4 linked regions of the Homo sapiens genome follow. The protein of the gene in region 1 interacts with the protein of each later gene in a pairwise test. Each region holds a gene or a part of one and is shown on either strand. Other genes may lie near its edges.

The links.
Region 2: the proteins of MVP (region 1) and GIT2 interact in a two-hybrid assay, tested with the Homo sapiens proteins (one large-scale study listed by BioGRID and IntAct).
Region 3: the proteins of MVP (region 1) and MRTFA interact in a two-hybrid assay, tested with the Homo sapiens proteins (one large-scale study listed by BioGRID).
Region 4: the proteins of MVP (region 1) and EPHX2 interact in a two-hybrid assay, tested with the Homo sapiens proteins (one large-scale study listed by BioGRID and IntAct).

The regions. Positions count from the first base shown.
Region 1 is NC_000016.10:29,829,023-29,833,970, forward strand, and holds part of MVP (major vault protein), read left to right. Parts: intron 1-1,451; exon of another isoform or gene 1,452-1,492; 5' UTR 1,493-1,527; coding exon 1,528-1,652; intron 1,653-1,855; coding exon 1,856-2,051; intron 2,052-4,710; coding exon 4,711-4,834; intron 4,835-4,912; coding exon 4,913-4,948. UniProt on the Homo sapiens protein: Required for normal vault structure. Vaults are multi-subunit structures that may act as scaffolds for proteins involved in signal transduction. Vaults may also play a role in nucleo-cytoplasmic transport.
Region 2 is NC_000012.12:109,929,543-109,934,490, forward strand, and holds the end of GIT2 (ARF GTPase-activating protein GIT2), read right to left. Parts: intron 4,544-4,948; coding exon 4,480-4,543; intron 3,649-4,479; coding exon 3,436-3,648; 3' UTR 262-3,435; downstream 1-261. UniProt on the Homo sapiens protein: GTPase-activating protein for ADP ribosylation factor family members, including ARF1.
Region 3 is NC_000022.11:40,425,002-40,429,949, reverse strand, and holds part of MRTFA (myocardin-related transcription factor A), read left to right. Parts: intron 1-182; coding exon 183-344; intron 345-4,948. UniProt on the Homo sapiens protein: Transcription coactivator that associates with the serum response factor (SRF) transcription factor to control expression of genes regulating the cytoskeleton during development, morphogenesis and cell migration.
Region 4 is NC_000008.11:27,489,097-27,494,768, forward strand, and holds the start of EPHX2 (bifunctional epoxide hydrolase 2), read left to right. Parts: upstream 1-2,046; 5' UTR 2,047-2,112; coding exon 2,113-2,213; intron 2,214-5,672. UniProt on the Homo sapiens protein: Bifunctional enzyme. The C-terminal domain has epoxide hydrolase activity and acts on epoxides (alkene oxides, oxiranes) and arene oxides. Plays a role in xenobiotic metabolism by degrading potentially toxic epoxides.

The sequences.
Region 1 (4,948 bases):
TTTCACCTGGGGTTGGAGGCTGGGTAGATGGTGGAATTGATGAGGAACCACTTTTTTTTTTTTTTTTTTGAGATGGAGTCTCACTCTGCCTCTCATAATGCTGGGATTACAGGCATGAGCCACTGCACCTGTCCTGGCCAGACATTTTTGAGGCCACCACCAGACAAAAGAGGCTCCTCATCGGCCAGGTGTGATGGCTCGCCTATAATCCCAGCACTTTGGGAGGCAGAGGCAAGAGGATTGCTTGAGGCCAGGAATTCGAGACCAGCCTAGGCAACATAATGAGACCTCATCTCTCCAAAAAAAAAAATTAGCTAGACATGGTGGCATGTACCTGTAGTCTCAGCTACCCAGGAGGCTGAGGCATGGCTTTTGTGAGCTATGATTGCACCACTGCACTCCAGCCTGGGTGACAGAGTAAGACTCCGTCTCAAAAAAAAAAAAAAAAAAAAAAAAGTCTGACCTGAGTCTCTTAAGGATGAGGCTCTGGAGCACCTAGTAAACTTGGTCCCATTTGTGTGACTCAAAGGGACATGTCCAAAGTCCAAAGTGCTGGGGGCAGGGGTGGGGCTTAGGTAGGGCATGTGACATTCCTGAACAGGCCAAGCACTGGGTGAAACTACTCAGGATTCAGAAGCAGGTGGGATGGGTGGGTGGAACATGATAATCATCCCCCTTCTCCTTCCTTTCCACCCTACCCTTGCTCACAACTGCAGGAGCTGAGGATGGGAGAGAACTGGGGACGAGGGGGCCAGAGTGATTTGCAGTGTTAGTAATGCAGCTGGTTCTATGGAAGGCTCAGTTCCATCTGGGATCCCTTTATGAGCAGTGGACTAGGTCTTCACATTCAGCCCAGGATTACTAAAGCATAGGAAAGAGGCAGGGAACATAGACACAGCTCATGTAAACATTCCTTTTGTTTATGGCCGAATCCTAGCCACTGGACTACCTGAGGCATACAGATATTCTTTGGCTATGGGCTGACATTTGAATACAGCTGGGGCCTCAGGATTCTCTGAAATAAAGGGCTGCCTCCCTCTGGAGGAGCCAGGCAGCTCCTCAGAGCAGCTGCCCATTGCGTGCTGGACAAGGCCATGTCACCACCTCCATGGCTCCCCAGTTTCCCAGCTTGCTGTATCTCTCCACCGTAAGAGACTGGGAGCACCTTGATCTGAAGCTCTTTGCAGTGCCGGTGGCAGTGTAGGGGGAAGTAGTTGATGGGAGTGAGGGAAAGGAATTGGCAAGGAACCCTGGGCCTCTGTGGCTCACTGCATCAAGCAGTTCTTGGCAAAGGTAAGGTCAGGATGGGCTGTGTCGTCTTGGGTGGGGTGAAGACAGGGAGCAGTGGGCATGCAGATGCGGACAGGGAAGGGTGCAGTGGCCTGGCTGGAGGAGGTAGGGCCGTATCCCACCCAGAGTCTGTCACCAGATTCATGCCTGCCCCACCCCAGGCTCCCCAGGTTCATCCTGTGTCGTCTCCCCCACCTACCAGTCATCTTCTTGTGAGCCCTGGGCTTAGGAGTCACCATGGCAACTGAAGAGTTCATCATCCGCATCCCCCCATACCACTATATCCATGTGCTGGACCAGAACAGCAACGTGTCCCGTGTGGAGGTCGGGCCAAAGACCTACATCCGGCAGGACAATGAGAGGTGGGTGTGGGGGCTGGGCTGTGGGGGATCCTTGGGGATGTGGGGGCCTGTTTGGCTGGCATGATGGTCCTTATCCTCCTCCCTCTTCCCAAGCAGGAGTGGCCCTCGCTTGGGCGATAGAGAGGTTTCTCTCTCATTTGGTGTCCTCTTTGGTAGTGGAGACCTGGTCCCAGGTCCTCACACCTCTTCTCATCTTCCTGCAGGGTACTGTTTGCCCCCATGCGCATGGTGACCGTCCCCCCACGTCACTACTGCACAGTGGCCAACCCTGTGTCTCGGGATGCCCAGGGCTTGGTGCTGTTTGATGTCACAGGGCAAGTTCGGCTTCGCCACGCTGACCTCGAGATCCGGCTGGCCCAGGACCCCTTCCCCCTGTACCCAGGGGAGGTGCTGGAAAAGGTACCTGGTTTCCTCACTCCCTATGCCCCACCCTACCTGTCCTCCACCTGCCTTGGGCTCTATACTGCTGCCTTCTTCTTCTTTTTTTCTTTTCTTTTTTGAGGCAGAGTTTCACTCTTGTCGCCCAGGCTGGAGTGCAGTGGCATAATCTCGGCTCACTGGAAGCTCCACCTGGGTTCAAGTGATTTTCCTGCCTCAGCTTCCTCAGTAGCTGGGATTACAGGCACCCGCCACCACGCCCGGCTAATTTTTGTATTTTTAGTAGAGACAGGGTTTCACCATGTTGGCCAGTCTGATCTCAAACTCCCGACCCCAGGTGATCCACCTGCCTCGGCCTCCCAAAGTGCTGGGATTACAGGCATGAGCCACTGTTCCCGGCCTGTACCGAGTTCTAAAGGGAAAACAAACCAGGGCAGTGGGAGGGGTGGGGAGAGACACTTGCTGGCTCTCACCAAGGGTGGAATTGACTCACTGTACCTCCACTCACCTCCAGCCACCCCCATCCTCCACACATGCCCCAAACACACCTGCCTCTTTTCTGAGAACTGTTGGCCCATCTCACCTTCCCAGGCTCCAGAGCCTACCAGAAGTGCCCAGCCAGTCTGGCATTAAATGACATGTGCCAAGGTTAAGCAGTTCATTCACCCGGTGCCAGACACTGGTGGGCAGTGCCAAAGCAGCAGTGACAAGCCCAGGCCCCAGGCTGTGCCTGTTCTAGGAGAAGCCATCACAGGCCTGAACCTACAGCCAGGCTCTTGTCCCCGTTGGCCTCAGGCCTGGGCCTGAGCAGGTGGGTGTCCCACCTTCATTCCTTTACCTGTTCTTCCACCTTTACCTTCTGGCCATTTAATGGTTTTGGGTTTTTTGTTTGTTTGTTTGTTTGTTTTTAATAGAGACGGGGTTTCACCGTGTTAGCCAGGATGGTCTTGATCTCCTGACCTCATGATCCGCCCGCCTCGGCCTCCCAAAGTGCTGGGATTACAGGCATGAGCCACCGTGTCCAGCCCCATTTAATGGTTTTCTTACTGACTTTACTAACCAGTGCTGCTTGATCCTGAAAGCATAATAGCAGAACATGGGGAACTTTTAGAGACATTCATGTCCACTTAGGTGCAGACAGTTTGGGGGAAGAAGTGTGTGTGTAGAGAGAAAATGAAGAATGATTAAGACAATAACCCTTAAGGAATCCAAGTGAAAAGTATATAGGGATTCTTGTACCTTTTTTTTTTTTTTTTTTTTTTTGAGATGGAGTCTCACTCTGTTGCCCAGGCTGGAGTACAGTGGCATAATCTCGGCTAACTGGAAGCTCTGCCTCCCAGGTTCACGCAATTCTCCTGCCTCAGCCTCCCGAGTAGCTGGGACTACAGGCGCCCACCACCACACCCGGCTAACTTTTTGTGTTTTTAGTAGAGATGGGGTTTCACCGTGTTAGCCAGGGTGGTCTCGATCTCCTGACGTCATGATCCACCTGCCTTGGCCTCCCAAAGTGCTGGGATTACAGGCGTGAGCCACCGCGCCTGGCCTTTTTTTTTTTTTTTTTTTCTGGATCTCCCCCTGTTGCCTAGACGAGAGTGCAGTGGGGTGATCATAGCTCACTGCAGCCTCAACCTCCTGGGCTCAAACGATCCTTCCACCTCATTCTCCCAAAATGCTGGGATTGCAGGTGTGAGCCACCAAGCCCTGCCTAAGCTTTCATTTTAAATATGTTCAGCCGGGCACAGTGGCTCACGCCTGTAATCCCAGCACTTTGGGAGGCCAAGGTAGGCAGATCACTTGAGGTCAGGAGTTTGAGACCAGGCTGGCCAACATGGCGAAAACCCATCTCTACTAAACATACAACAATTAGCCAGGCGTGGTGGCATGCGCCTGTAATCCCAGCTACTTGGGAGGCTGAGGCATGAGAATTACTTGAACCTGGGAGGCGGAGATTGCAGTGAGCTGAGATTGCGCCACTGCGCTCCAGCCTGGGTGACAGAGCAAGACTCTGTCTCAAAAAAAAAAAAAAAAATTAGCTGGGGGTGGTGACACACCTGTAATCCCAGCCACTCAGGAGGCTGAGACAGAAGGATCACATGAGCCTGGGAGATTGAGACTGTTGTGAGCCATGGTTGTACCACTGCAGTCCAGCCTGGATGACATAGGAAGACCCCATCTCCAAAAATAAAAAAAAGCCAGCTCTTCCTTTGAGCCCCAGTTTCAGTTCAAAGGGCCTTCTCTAACTTCTCCTTCATCTGAACTCCTGAGACAGGGTCTTGCTCTGCTGCCCAGGCTGAAGTGCAGTGGTGCAGTCATAGCTCACTGAAGCCTTAACCTCCTGGGCTCAAGTGATCCTCCCACCTCAGCCTCCCGAGTAGCTGGGACTACAGGTGTGCGCCGCCACCATGCCTGGCTACACTTTTTTTTTTTTTTTTTTTTTTTAGAGATGGGATCTTGCTATGTTGCCCAGGCTGGTTCTTGAATGTCTGAGGTCAAGCAATCCTCCTACCTCAGTCTCCCAAAGTTCTGGGATGACAGGTGTGAGCCACTGTGCCCGGCCTCCACCCCAGTCTTATTTCAGGACATACAGAGATGGATGTTGTGGACCCGCCTCCAGAGCATCAGGCTTGGCCCTGGGGTCACAGCACTGATGGTTCTGTGTCTCCACCTTCTTCCCCACTAGGACATCACACCCCTGCAGGTGGTTCTGCCCAACACTGCCCTCCATCTAAAGGCGCTGCTTGATTTTGAGGATAAAGATGGAGACAAGGTGGTGGCAGGAGATGAGTGGCTTTTCGAGGGACCTGGTAAGTTCTGTCTCCATAGGGCTCCCTGCCTTCCTGTCATAGCCCTGATACCTTCTGACCATCACCTTCCCTCCCCAGGCACGTACATCCCCCGGAAGGAAGTGGAGGTCGTGG
Region 2 (4,948 bases), on another chromosome or scaffold:
GATCGCGTCATTGCACTCCAGCCCGGGCAACAAGAGTGAAACTCCATCTCAAAAAAAACAAAAAAACAAAACAAAACAAAACCTATTTGCTAAGCACAGAGGAAGAAAAAGATAGTCATTACTGTAAAACTGCAGAGCCCCAAAGCATATGAAACACTGCATCTCACTAATGATGGCGTTTTGGGAGAACTTCCTCAGACCTTTTACAGAGTATCTGGAAACATCAACTAATTGATGGGGAGCACAGCATTACCACAAAAACACTTGTAGAGCCTGTTTATTGCATAACTAGCAGGCACAAATTCCAAAACGATTTTACAACACTTAAAGGGCACAATAATTACAGGAATAGAATGTACAATAAAAAGTACAGAATAATGAGTGACAGGGATCAAACACGTTGGAATAAAAGGCATCTCAGTTTTCCTATGCAGCATTTTCTTTTCTAGGAACACGTTACCTTCAACCAGGACAAGGAAAGAAAGAAAACTATACTATTGGAAAGCTCATGGGTGCCATTGAGGACAAAAACAGGCGAGTTTTGCTCTTGGTTCTGCAACTGAATCACTTGAGAAGCCGTGCACAGCTCCCGAGTTGTGCGTTTAGAATTCTGATTACATGAAATGCTGTGTTTGATCTTTGGGCCCAATTCACTGTTCTTTGGCAAATAAGAACTATTTGCATTCCAAGGCAGATGACGATTTCTGTGAAAGGAGCTTAGAGGTACAGCTGTTTCCTTCTGTTCAGTCAAGTGCCAGTTTCATAAAGTGCACCTCTGCCCTATCAGCTTTGGGGGAAGGGTGGCATATGGGGAGGAAGGGATCATTGAGAATACAGGGTGAAAAAGAACGACGTTACTGAAGGTAGACATTGCTAGTGCAAGGTACGGAATCCATGTGCAAAAGGTGGCTGGAACAAATGTTCAGATAAGGTGCGATTTGCCAACAGGAGCAGAGAACTCTGACACCAGATCTCAGATGAGGCCAAGGAAATGCGCGGGGCACATACAGAGAGGACGACCTGCAGCCCTCCAATGGCCACGTCATTCCACCGGGGAACTTGTTTGGAGTTTTGGCACCGTGGGCTAACCGAGCACTCTTCTGACATATTCTTACAACTGGAAATGCTTTGTTGGTCCCCATGTTCCTTGACTTTCTCTAGGGCCATAAAGGCAACATCTTCTATTGCAGGTCCTCAAACATTCCAAGGAAAACACTGCTTCACCTCCTGCAGACAGCTCATTTCCCAGAAGCCTCTACAGAAGCCCGTCCTCCCTGGGACAGCAGGGGCAGGGGTTTGCAAGATAAAGGAGGGTCAGCTAAGGACATGAAGCCTGCAGAAAAGGCTATCAGATGGCGCCTGAACTTAAGGTGGGAGGCCCCCTTCTAGAAGGCATCCCGGGAGCATCCAACAGCAATGTGGCACTTAGGGCTGTGGGACAAACAAGTGGAAGAGTCTTTTGGAGACGTGGACCCTTTTCCCATGCTACTCACAGTGAAGCAAAATGCGACAAAAGCATCCACACACGGTGACTTAGTAAAGCAAGCACCGTCGGGGTGCTACTTTCATGACAGCATATGGTCAAGCTATAAAGGTGTGCATCGATCAGTCCTGTGAAAATAGAAGCTTAGTTATTAGCATGTATTGAGGCAACTTGTACTTTGATTCTTGTGTCTTCTTCACATGTGTGAATGACTGCTATGGGACAGAACATATGGTTAAAAACAGGAGCGACAGCAACATAACACACAGGGTTGGCCGGCTCCATTACGGGTAAGACTCAGAGGCTGCTCCAGGTGTGTCCGGGGAAGCCAGGCCCTCACACTGCACAGCTTACAGGGCCCTGGGGTGGGGGCTGTGAGCTGGCAGCCTAGAGGACACAGCTCACCTGCACATGGTCTCTGAAAGTGTTCAAATTGGTTGCCAACATTTATAAATGGAGAGATGGCACCAAAAAACATCTAGGTTTCTTGTCTCTTGAAAAATCAAAGCTGTGGCCACCCTAGGCCCACTTTTCCACATGGCAACAGGCGTGGAGCTGGGGGCTACTGCCCCTACTGTGTAGGCGGTGGGCTCCCCATAGTCTCCTCTGCCCTGCTGCCGTGTACCTGGCTCCCTTCACTCATCCACATCACCGGCCCTAGGCCAGGGTCTGAACCACACACACAGAATGGCTGCAGTAAGCAGGAACGGGAAGAGCTTTCACATTCAGAACAAGAAGGGGCTTTTGAGTAACTAAAAAACAATCTGAGCATGTTCCAGCACTTCAACCTTACTCTTTCAGAGCTTTGGGGTAGCAGGCAGCCAGCTAGAGCACACTCTCTAAGGAACTCTTGAAAGTTGATGTCTAATTTTTAAGTACTCATGAGGTGATGGAGGAGAAACTAACTCAGATGACTGCGATACGATACATCTTTCCTTATAAGAAGTCCTTAAAGATGATGAAAAATGTGAAGCAACTCATGTGAGAAAGCTGTAAGTGGTCAGAGAAGCAAGCTGACTTTTGGATGAAGGGTACAACACAGTGTCAGGGAGTAGGTGATTTCTTTTCCCTATAGTTCATGGTAGTGATACCTAAATGGGTGGCACAAAATGAGTTCTGGCTTGTTAGACTGATGCTTCTCTTTGCTGCAGGTTTTGAACAAACTGTCTGGCTTACAGGGGTGAGGGAGAGCACCTGACAATGGGTGGTGATGTGCGTGGAGCTCCTACCCTGAACATGGCTTCATGAGATGTCCTGTGGTGGGTCAATGCTTTATCTCATTCCATGGAGCCTTCAAGATGACAAGAAAACATCAAGAGATAGGAGCTTGAGATAACAACATTAAATAACAGAACATGTAACAGGGTAAAACACTGAGAAGAAATGAACCAATTCATTGTTTCCTCCCAAGAGAGACTGTGACACTAGTTTTAAAAAGCGGCAAAGTCCTTTCTCTACATACATGCTTGGAGATACCCCAAACTTAGAGATTATGAAGTAGGCCAGGAAATTCACTTATTGCACGATGCTTGGCAGGGAACAAATGACGCTGATTTTTTCTTTTTTAACTGAACTCTCTCAAGAAAATGTTTTATGAAAAATTTCATTTATAGTTTCAGCCATAGGCAGGGAGTTTTAAGGGATGGAAAAGTTTTCACAAACTTTAGACAATGAAACTATACTTTTGGATGTATGTGATCAACTCAACAGTTGTTGACAACACAACCGAACATCAGAAACTAAACCAGCAAATAGGCACAAAATAAGGCAAGTGGGTTAAATAGTTGAAAATTGGTTAGAAAACATGCAAAAATAATACTGAGTTTTCTTTTAAAAAGTTTTAAACCGTCATTAAATGTTTCTTTTTGTAGAAATCTGAAGAGTTCTGCGTCTGAATTTGAAATTGGACTTTATAAAGCCTAGAAAACAGAGGAGGCGGTGCCCTGCCCTTGTCAGTTGTTGTTCTCTTTGGTGGTGATGGTAACCAGCTGCTTGGCAGCCTTGGCGATGTCGTACGCACACTGGATGACCTGCTGCGTGACCAGCTGAACGTCTGTGGGTGAGCCGGGGTCCCCTGGGAGGGTCTTCTTGCACTCTGACTGCAGTCGGTAGGCACTGGACGTCAGTAAACGAAGGGAAGTCCTCACCATATCAGACTTGGGTTTCTAAAAGGAAAAAGACAGCCGTTTACCCTGAACTGCAGGGCAGACATCCAAAAGCAGGGGACAAACATTCTTCTAAAGCAAACCAAGCTGCTCCCCAGAGTGAAAGGCGGTTTGGTCCTGCCCTTTCTCAAAGGGGTGCTTCACACACTCCAAGCTTTGCAGCCCACAGCGTAAGAGATGCTGAAATATTCTGATTCAAAGGTCAAAGTGCATGCAGGGTAATTTTAGTAGTATGTGGTATTTTGAAGTAGTTTTTGAAAAATATTAATCCATGTGGGTAAAATATTCCAGAAAATCCTATAAATTTTAAAATGTGCCTTTTAGCACGACTTGTATATCCTTGTCTTATTAAATCAACATTCATGCAGAACAAAAATATTTCAAAGCTCTATACGACTGCATATTTTATTTTATTTTACTTTTTTTTGAGACTTGAGTTTCACTCTTGTTGCCCAGGCTGGAGCGCAATGGCACGATCTTGACTCACTGCAACCTCCGCCTCCTGGGTTCAAGCGATTCTCCTGCTTCAGCCTCCTGAGTAGCTGGGATTACAGGCATGCACCACCACGCCTGACTAATTTTGTATTTTTAGTAGAGACAGGGTCTCTCCATGTTGGTCAGGCTGGCCTCGAACTCCCGACCTCAGGTGATCTGCCTGTCTCGGCCTCCCAAAGTGCTGGGGTTACAGGCGTGAGCCACCACACCCGGCCTCGACTGCATATTTTAAAACTGCATGTGCTACAAAAAAGCTAATGTAATATATAGGTCATAAAGAAATTTCTTGCTGTTCATTTAAAAGGATTTAAACCAAGTGAGTAGGAAGTGACTTACTTTGGGGAATAATGCTGCCATTTCTGTAACAGCTACGTGTATCCTCTCTGAGCAGGGAATATAACTGCAAGAATATTGAAGAAGTTATTCAATGACAGTAAAAATGATTCGGAGGCAAAGAGGACTCAAGTGCTAGAACAGATTCTGTTTACATTCCCTTCATGAAGGGGCTAGGGCTGCAGTCAGCCGTGCATCCCACACCACCAGAGGGCACATGGTTATAAAGCAGGACTCTCATTGCTTCCTAAAAGTTCAATCTGATGAAAAGTCTCCAGGTATGAAATATGGCAACATACACTCTTGGTCAGGTGAGGCCACACAACAGTACAGAAACATAATTCACCCCTCCTCACGTCAGTCATTTACTTCTCATGTGTTTCATCGTCCCAATTTCTAGAAAGAGAAAGGATTTCCATGCAAAAGGCCACAGAAGTGAAAAATAAAGGACTGAAAAAATTCCTTAAAATTA
Region 3 (4,948 bases), on another chromosome or scaffold:
GGAACCCCTTCTCTTGTCTTTGTGAAACTTCAAGACAGGCCACTCTTCTCTGCTTGGAATATGCTTACCGTTCTGACAGTCACTCCTCTTGCCCAGGAGGAAGGAGAGCTGCTCTGGAGTTCCCGGGGCAGAACCACGTCCACTCATATATCTTCCTGCACCCCTTTCTCTCCCATGGGCAGAGACCTCGGCTGAGCCATCCCTCCAGGCCAAGCAGCTGAAGCTGAAGAGAGCCAGACTAGCCGATGACCTCAATGAGAAGATTGCACAGAGGCCTGGCCCCATGGAGCTGGTGGAGAAGAACATCCTTCCTGTTGAGTCCAGCCTGAAGGAAGCCATCATTGGTGAGGAGGACCCAGCCACCCTGTGTGAGAGGCAGCTGAGATGCAGGAGGGGAGGGAGTGCCAGGCTGAAGCAGAATTGGGCTGAGGCTCTTGACTTCTTAATCTTTGACTTCCTGCTTAGCCTTGGGAGAACCAAGGCACAGAGTTTGAGAGCCTCATGCACAGGTTGTATGAACTTGGGATAGTGCCTGTTGCTTTAAGAAACAGGGACATACAACAATAAATAATAACAGAGGCCTTGCTCTGTTCACTTTCCATCTTTGTAAACTCGGGTTGCTTCCTCTTTCACAGAGTAGATAGATGTCAGGATCAGTGTGTGTGAACATGTGGAGATGCCAGGAATTAGAAATCTGTGTCATACTCTTTATTAGTGAAGTCTCTTCTTGGAGACTGGCCCTTTCCACGGATATTTCACTTAACAAATACTGATGGACCCAAACAGTGTGCTAGGTGCTAAGGCCACAGCCCCACAGGGCAGACCAAGTTCCTTTGTCCTTATGGAGCTCACGCCTAGGAGCAGGTAACAGGCAGGTGAATAGGCAGGATAGAGAAGCTGTGCTGGAGGGAGCACAGGGTACTTTGGAAACACAGAGGAGGGTCACCCAACCTGGTTGCATCAGGAAGGGTGCAGCTGTCAGAGGAGGTGACAGCCAAGCCTGGGGCTGAAGGATGAGTAGGAATTCATGAAAGCGTGTGGGAGAGGGTGGGACGAGGGAGGAGAGGACGGTGCTCCAGGCAGGGAGAACAACCCTAGGACCTGATGAGAAGGCACTGGAAGGGAGGGTGTCAAGATGAGAGGTGGGAGGCCAGGTCCTCAGTGATTTGGTAGTCTGAGGCGGGAGGATCACTTGAGCCCAGGAGTTTGAGACCAGCCTGGGCAACATGCAACATAGGGAGACTCATCTCTACAAAAAAAATCAAAAAATTAGCTGGGTGTGGTAACACACACCTGTAATCCCAGCTGCTCAGGAGGCTGAGGTGGGAAGATCGCTTGCGTCCAAGAGTTCAAGGCCGTAGTGAGCTATGATTGTGCCACTGCACTCTAGCCTGGGTGATAGAGTGAGACCCTGTCTCAAAAACAAAAACGAGGTGGGAGCAGTAAGCACAGTTCAGGACGTGCAGGGCCTCTTGGCACACTTGGGAGTTTGGACTTGATTCCTTTAGTGTAAAAGGGAAAAAGCCGTTTTTCTCTGTATTTACACTCAATACAGAATACTTCTGGTGTTGGTATTCTGGCATGGTATTACCCCACATACCAAGCAGTTCTCCAGTGGACACCAGCTGGGTGTCCTCCATTTCTTTTCAGATGCCATTTACCTGCAGATAGCGTCTGATCCCACAGGTTGAGGACTCAGTCCCACAAGACTTAGCCCCACTTCCCATGCTGGTCCCAAGCCCCAGGTTATTTTACATTTGCTTTTAACCAACTAGCTATAGATTGGGGTTCCCATACCCTCTCCTTGGGCTTGATAATTTGCTAGGATGGCTCACAGAACCTGGGGAAACACTTCACTTAACATTTCCTGGCTTATTGTAAAGGATGCAGAGGAACAGTCAGAGGGAGGGACGGATGGCACAGTGTCGTGGGGTGCCAGGGGGAATGGTGGTATTGGAACTTCCCTGCCCTCTCCTGGCCTTCACCCTCCCAGTAGCTAGAGAAACTCATCAAATCCTGTTATCCAAGAGTTTTTATAGAGCTTGATCTCAGAGCCCCCACTCTATGTCCTACATACCCACCCCCACTTTCCTGGAGGTTGGTGGATGGCGCTGATATTTCCAGTCCTCTAATCCTCTAATCACTTGGTGTCTCTGGTGACTGGCCCAATCCTTAGTCTCTCCCAGATTATCACATTAGCATAAGCTCAGGTGTTGTGGAAAGGGGCTTGTTATACATAACTGAAGATACTTCTGACCTTAAGGAAATTCCAAGGGTTTTAGCTGCTCTGTGATGAGAACTGGGGGACAAAAACCAAATATATTTATTATCCTACTCTTAGATTTTGGTGATAATTGGTACAGACATGTCTCCTTCGCTGCAGTGGGCCCAAGATCCGATCCCTGACAAGACAGCACCTGCCTGCCCCTCCTGAGGCAGCTGTGCCTTCAGAGAAAGAGGCTCAGGGTTTCCTCTAACATGAGTTTTAGTTTTGGGCAGAGGGGAAACACTGCAGCAGACCCCCAACGCATGCTGAATTAGGCTTTGGGCCCTGATTAGAGGTGACTGGCAGTTTCTAGGGCCTCCTCTGCATTGTAGCCACCCTACTGGAGGCTGGCCCACACTGGGCCCGGAGGAGCCCTTTCCCCATGTTGATACAGTAGCTCTTATAATTCACAGATTTTCCCTGGCGTTCATCCTGCCTCATCTCAGTGGTTTCCTCCGTGTATTCCTCAGCAGCCCCTAGTTATAGGCCAGTGTAGGGGCCAAGCCAGTTCTGGATGCTGCAGCCAGCCACAGTCTGATAAATGTGTGCTGAGACTCAGCAGTGTGCCAGGCCATGTGAAGTCCTGATGTCACAAAGATGAATAAAATATGACTTGTGCGCTAAAAGAATTCACGTAGGTCTGATGTGAGAAGACTAATGTATAAACAACTGATTTCTGAGTCTGGTTCCCAGTCAGATGCCAGTGCTGCCTGGTAGGAAGGCCATGGCCCTGTGACATTGTCTCTGAGTCACCTGCCTTGTGCGACTGCTTGCAGGATCACACACGATGATGGATGGTCCTTGGCGCCTAGAGAGACTCACACAATGGTTGCTGCTGTTGTCAGCAATAACACTCATTCTAGACCAGCTGGCAGCTGCTGTAATGGACAGTGTAACAATGGATATGTGTGTGTCAGTGCTGTGGGAGCTCAGCAGAGGGACTTCTCTCAGGGATGGGAACAGGTGTTGGTGGCCAGGGAAGTACCCACACTATAGCACGTCTGGGGGCAGCTTGGAGGCTGGGTCAGAGTTTGCCAAGTGGAAAAGGTACAGAGGTACAAGAGGGAACAGCATGGGCAGTGGCTTGGAGGCCTGGCTGAACACAGCTTGTTTGTTTGAGGAATTTGGCAATGGGGTGATTGTTGGGGACTTTAAGGAGCACAGAGCATTTGCCAGCAAAAACCAGATTGTACAGTTGAGTAGGAGAGAAGGAGGTGGTGATGGCAAATGTAGCTCATTTGCTCAATAGTTCTGTGGAGAAGGAAAGCAGAGGCAGGTGCTGGCTTAAGGAGGGATTTTCAGGCTGGATGCAATGGAGCAGGTTTTTGGGCTGAGAGGAAAGAGTCAAGGAGATGAGAGGATGGGCACCTTCAGAGGAAGAGGAGGGAGGAGGACGAGGAAATGGAACCCTGGCTGAGGTGGAGGTTTGGCTCAGGAGAGGCAAAGCTGGGAAGGAAGTTTGGCTCAGATGAGTGGGAAGGAAGCGGGCAGTGGGAGAAGGGGGAGCGGACCGTTCTGAGGCCTGAGAAAAGGGCTGATGGGGGTTGGGGTCTTCCCCACACATCTAAGCTCCCCATCCCACCCTTCCTCCAGGCCCCTCAGTTATCGTCAAGGTTCACTTTAAGTCCTGTCCTCCAGGAAGACTTCTCTGAGTCTCTCCTCAGTGTGCCCTTAGCTTCTGTGTTTTCTCTCTAGCAGAGCATTCACTGGGCTCCAAGGCAACTGGACCATAAACTCCTGGAGGGCAGGGACCCCATCTTTGTTCCCAGGATGTGACTGTGAGTGGAGAGAGAAATAGTCTGTAGTGACCCTGGCCTGTACCAGCCCTGGGTTTTCCACAGTACGGCCAGCAGCTTCCTTGGGTTGGACTAATCTGGGGGAAGCTACAGTTCCTCCACCCTTGCTCACCGTTGTCAGTACTGGCTGCCATGGGGCTGCTGTCCCAAATCAGATGCCGTTGCCGGAAGTAGGAGATTGTGGGGGAAATCTAGCCGTGTGTCTGGCATGAAGTACACATGGTCAGCAAGCCCTGTTCTGTGTGTTGCATACTTGCCCCTGCTGGGACAGATGAGGGGACAGAGGAGCAAGCCACCACCACAGTCGCCAGTAAGGAAGAAGCTCAGATGCATCCTTCCCAGGTCCTGAGGGAGGAGAGAGCCTCAGGTCCTGGCCCTGGCCCTGGAGGGCAAGAGCTCCTAGGAGAGCCACTGCAAGGACAAACCCAGCCTGAGCTGTTGCGCTTTGTTCCTCTTCCTTATCTGGGGTCTTCCCACACAGCATACTTCCCCAGGCTTGGGCGGCAGCTCACCCCTGCCTTCACCACTGCCTCAGTTCCTTCTGTATGGATGGCAGATCAGCTCAGAACCTGCCACCCCCACCTCTTCCCACGACAGTGTTGAGCCGGTGGCTCTGACAGTGACTCTTGAAATAGCCTCCTTGCCTCTGTTCCCATCTTTCCTTCCCACTGGGACCCCATGGAACAGAAGCTCTGTGCTACGCCCTCCTCCCCTGCCTCTGCTTCCAGTTGGCCTCAGAAGGACTTGCATTCACAGTCATCCAGAGCTTGGCAGTGGGTCAGGCCAGGGCAGTGACAGCCAGTAGGATGTTTTCTTCTGGTGCCCCACCTGCCCAGGTGTTGGGTCTCTGTGAGCCACTGGCCTCTAGAGGAGGTCACCACACCAC
Region 4 (5,672 bases), on another chromosome or scaffold:
CTCGGGACTGAGCCACTGAGTCAATGGGGATGCCAGTTTGTAAGATAGGGAACACACTAGGAGGAACAGGCGTGGGAAGTAGAAATGCAGAGAGAGTTCTGTTTTAGCCATGATAAATTTGAGATGCCTGTTAGACACTCAAGAGAAGATGTTCAGTAAGAAGTTGGATATTGACGTTGAGTAAGATGTTGAGTAAGAAGTTGGCAAGTCTGGAGCCCAAAGGAAACTCTAAGTTGGAGATTTAATTTCTTTCTTTTTTTTTTTTGGAGGTAGAGTCTTGCTGTGTCACCCAGGCTGGATGGAGTGCAGTGGCACAATCATGGCTCACTGCAGCCTCCACTTCCTGGGCTAAAGTGATCGTCCCACCTCAGCCTCCTGAATAGCAGAGACTACTGGCATGCACCACCATGCCTAGCTAATATTTTATTTTTATTTTTTATAGAGAGAATGTCTTGCTTTGTTGCCCAGGCTTGTCTCAAACTCCTGGCCTCAAGCAATTCTCCCACCTCAGCCCCAAAGTGCTGGGATTACAGGTGTGTGCCACCATGCCCAATCTGGAGATTTAACAGGTTTCATACTATATAGGTCAGGCTGCAATTTTCTTTCTATTTTTTAAAATTCAATTATACCTTTGAGATCAACTAACTTCATGAGAAACTAGCTTGCTGTACTCCCTTCTCTGCCTATCTTTCAGTCTTCAAATCCAGAGTAATCCAGTTTCTACCATAAAGGGCCCACAAAAAGTGTTCTGAAACATCCGGTGTCATCCAAGTCCAAAATTGGACAGCTTTTTTTTCAGTTCTTCCTGTAACATTTGGCAGTGTTGGCCACTCTCTGCTTCTTTGGCAAGAATCTCAGAAAACACTAATAACTGCTCCAGGCAGGAGCCTGGAAGAGGTTACCAAGCTAGAGAAGGAAGCAACAGCATAGCTTGCTAAGGGCAAACAGCCCAGAGGAAACCCACGGCTCTGGTCAATCCTGTTGTTGATTGCTAGATCCAGAGACTGTTGTAGACCTCCCAGTTACAGTGAGGTATCTGACAACCCCTCACAAGGTTCTTGAAGCTCCGTGGTGGAGGGTATCTTGGATAAATCCACAGAGACACATTCAAGAGTAAATTCTCCACTGTTGGAGACCTCACTCACTCTGTTTGGTCTCCACCAAAGACACGGTTTTTAATTCATGGAGCTGCACTACAACAGCTCAAGAACTCCCAGCCAAAGTTTTAGTTTTTCTAGGAACATAAACGAGCCAATAGTGTGGAAATCGGTGATTAAAAACAAACCTCGCACATTTTAAGACAGAATTATTACAAGTAGCATGTACAAAAGGAAAATAATAGCCTACATTTAGTTCTTCTAAGCTTCATTCCACAAGAGATTGAAATCGAAGTATTCTGGGCTGGCACACGATAGCTGGAACATCATATTTTATTCTAGAAACACATTTGCCTTGGCAAAGAAGAGCGTGCCTAGAGGAGTGGTCAGGATAGTGAGGGATCTGTGATCCTTCGTTCTGAATCTAGAAAAGTCACTGGATATGCCCCTCCCCCGCCCCCCAACACGGTCTTATGTTCTGAATGTAGAAGTCACTGGATGTGCTGACACACACACACACACACACACACACACACACACACACACACACACACACACACAGAGTCTGTGGCCTCTTTCCCAGGCATTCCAAGTCCAGCAAGTTCGCAGGGAGCTGTCAGTCCGTCCAGGAAGGCCCGGGCCTGGGTTTGCCTCTTCAAGCAGCTACTGCAGGGGCGTGGGGAGGGGGCATAAGAGACTTTGGACTTTCCTTTGAGACAGTAGAAAGCGTTACATCCAGAGGCGAGATTCTAGCCTGGGGTCCCCGCCTTCCCGGCCTCCTCTTCCTCTCCCTCTGACTCCCTTTCCTGTGCCCCTCCCCCTGCCTCTTTCCCGGCCAGAGTCCAGCCTTAACCCGGGCAGAGGGCGGAGTCCCGTTAAGGGGGTGTGGGGAGGAGGCGGGGCCAGGGCAGGGGCGGGGCAGAGCCGGGCCAAGCTGGGCGGGTCATGCGCCCTGGCCTTCGCGCATCTCCCAGGTTAGCTGCGTGTCCGGGTGCTAGGCTGCAGACCCGCCGCCATGACGCTGCGCGCGGCCGTCTTCGACCTTGACGGGGTGCTGGCGCTGCCAGCGGTGTTCGGCGTCCTCGGCCGCACGGAGGAGGCCCTGGCGCTGCCCAGGTAAGGGGGCCCAGCGCCGCCGCCGCAGTGGGTCGGGGCCTCAGGAGGCAGACCGCGCTGGGCTTGCAGCCCAGCTTTCAGATTGCTCCTGTGCCGGAGCCCTGCGAATCATGCGAATCATGAAACTGAAGACCTGGCCCTGAAGTCCCAGTGCATATGAGGAGATCCGTTGTCTTTCTAAATGTTCATAATTAAACGTTGCCAAGGTCTCCAAAATTGCTTTCTGTGAACTTTTCCAAAAGGGAGAGGAGTTACTCATGGAGCTTTGTGCTTCTGCTGCCTCCTGTCTAATGGGGTGGCGCTTAAAGATGCGAGCCGAGATTCAGGAGAGAAGAAAGTTCTCTCCCCAGGTGTGGGTTGCATGCTTACTTGTGTAATAGCAAACTGCAGCAACCGCCCAAAGCCACATCACTGGGAAATGGTAGATGGGGTGTGCAGAGTGAGAGCTCAGGGACTTGGGAAAACACCTGTTCTACTACATGAAAAAACCACCCCACCAGAATCTGAAGCTATTTATACAATATGGTTTCAGCTATGGAAAAAAGGTACATGCAGAAAAGTGCCTGAAAGAAATAGGCCAAAGTACATCAAATGAGATTAGGAATAATGTAATGATTTTCTTTCTCTCTCTCTTTTTTTTGTGTTTTTTTTTTTTGTAGTTTCCAACTTCTAAATTTATAAACAATGTATTATTCCCACATTCAGAAAGGAGAGAAGTATACTTATTTATAAAGTGAAAAAGAAGGCCAGGCATGGAAGCCATTGTTCATATCCTCCTTTTACATATGAGGAAACTGAGGCACAGAAAGAAACCAGCTGTCCAAATCACATAGCTGTTAAAGAGCAGAGCCAGAAATCCAACCCCAGTAGTCCATGTCCGGAGCCTTTGCTTTTAATATAGTAAGGAAGATGAGATGGCAAGTAGCTTGAGGGAAAGGCATGTAATCTCTGTGCTTTGGGAAGCTAAGGTGGGAGGATCACTTGAGGCTGAGAGTTCAAGACCAGCCTGGGTGAAAGAGCAAGACCCTGTCTCTCCAAAAATAAAAATAAAATTAGCTAGACATTAGTGCATGCATGTAGCCCCAGCTACTTGGGAGGCTAAGGCAGAAGGATTGCCTGAGCCCAGGAGTTGGAGGCTATAGTTGTGTCCAGAGTTGGTTCCTGTCGGTGGGTTCGTGGTCTTGCTGACTTCAAGAATGGAGCTGTGGACCTTCGCAGTGAGTGTTACACTCGTAAAGATGGCGCAGACCCAAAGAGTGAGTGATAGCAAGGTTTATCGTGAACAGCGAAAGCACAAAGCTTCCACAGCATGGAAGGGGACCCCAGCAGGTTGCCGCTACTGGCTGGGGTGGCCAGCTTTTATTCCCTTATTGTCCTCTCCCATGTTCCATTTCTGTCCTATCAGAGTGCCCTTTTTTCAATCCTCCCCGTGATTGGCTACTTTTAGAATGCTGCTGATTGTGCGTTTTACAGAGCGCTGATTGGTGCATTTTACAATTCTCTTGTAAGACAGGAAAGTTCCCCAAGTCCCCACTCGACCTAGGAAGTCCAGCTGGCCTCACCTCTCAATCCTCCCTCATAACAGGACACCCCACCTGCTACTGGGAACTGGGTGATGACCACTCTAGCTACTTCCTGCTGGATAGGGGCAAAGAAGGGGCCCTGCCGTTGTAGTGTCCTCCAGAGGGGAACTCTCTAGGCCAGTCAAAGGGCCAGTGGGTCAGTCTAGCAGTCCTCGGTAGAAGTTGTGAGTTAAGCTCATTTGGGGTTCCATTTGTAAGACCATCTGTAGCTTGATGGCCTTGATCCTGGAGGAAACAAATTTGAGGAGGAGGTTAAAAATACAGGGACTGAAGGTGAGTAATAGCAAGATGGCTGTCACGGGACCTAGAAAGGGGAGAAGCCAAGTCACCCAACTCCAGAGGTTGGTATAAGAATTTGAAAGGTGTTGTCTGGTTTCAGAAGCCTTTTCCTGTAAATGCCAGGCAGCATCCTGTACTATCCCTGACTGGTTAGTTTAAAAACAACACTCCTCCCCTAAGAAGGTGCAAAGTCCTCCTTTCTCAGCAGTGAGGAGGTCTAGACCTTAGCGGTTTTGGAGAGTCACTGTTGCCAAATAGTCTATTTGGGATTGTAGAGTAAGGATAGATTTATTTATTGCAAACTGTCTGAGAAATCCTTTGAGAGTGTATGGTAGTAGGATAATGAAGTAGTTAAACTGGCTATTCTGGTTCCTGTAGCAGTGGGCATTCCTAGCCCTATAAGTAGGGGTATTAGTTGTATGGTCCTGGGCTGACAGACTTGAGCTTTGAGGGGCACTGATAGGGTCTGATTTCCTGTGGCATTGTTAGTGTTGGGACTTAGGAGAAGGTGCAGGTGCCTGTCCAGCTGGTGGGAGGCAGATATAGGTTGAAGTTCCACATAAGAAGAATATGCCTTGGCTGGGTAGAATAAACTGGTTGTGTATGTTAAAAAGGTGTGTGAGTTTGTTTTCATTTTCCCACACTCCTAGAGTACTTGCCAAGGTAGCTCTGGTGAGCAGCTGGAAAGGGTGTTGGGAGCAGACTGAGTGGCTCCCTGTGCTCTATTTTCCCATTGGAGAAAAAACCGTTTTGTATCTACTAGGAACCATCCAAGAGAGTAATTGAAAGAGGGGATAAGAAGACATACACTAGTGGTGGGGGCGCTGCTGCAGGGGGTCCAGGGGTGAATGGTCATGCAGGGAGTATGTTTGCCATTACAAAACCCAGACTGTTTGTTAAACAGGGAGGAGGTGATGATTTTGGGGGGCCCTGAGAAGCAGACAAGCCATCTGAATGGAGGTGTTTGGGTGACTCAGGAGTTACTATGATCAGTTGGGGCTTGAAGTTATAGGGTGTAATTACACTGATGGGATAGTAGGTGCCCCAGGGGCAGGCCTGATAACAGGTTGTGTTGGATGCATAAAAGGGCTTGGAAAGTTAAGATGGTATTCGGTATTCGTGGTCACAAGGTCTTGTATGGGCTTTTCCTGAGGATTGTGGCCTCCAGGCACAGTGAAGGTGATATTGTATCTCTAGTGCCCTGGAAACTCCCTGAGTTACCATGGCTTTAAAAGCCAGACCATTGTCACTTTGTAAGCTTTGGGGAAGCCCAAATCTAGGAATTACTTCATGAATTAGGACTTTAACCACTTCTTGAGCCTTCTCTGTCTTGCAGGACAAGGCTTCATCCAATTTGCAAAGGTATCAACACAGACCAACAAGTATTGAAATCCCCTTGACTTAGGCATATGGGCGAAGTCTAACTGCCAGTCTTCTCCTAGATAGTGCCCTATTCTTTGTTCCCCCAGAGGGGCCTTATGATGGACCAAGGGATTATTCCTTTGGCACACCTCACAGGCTTTGACTACTTGTTGGATGGTCTGAAGGAGATTTGGCCCTGTAAATAGGGATTTGGCCATTTGATGAGTGTTCTCAA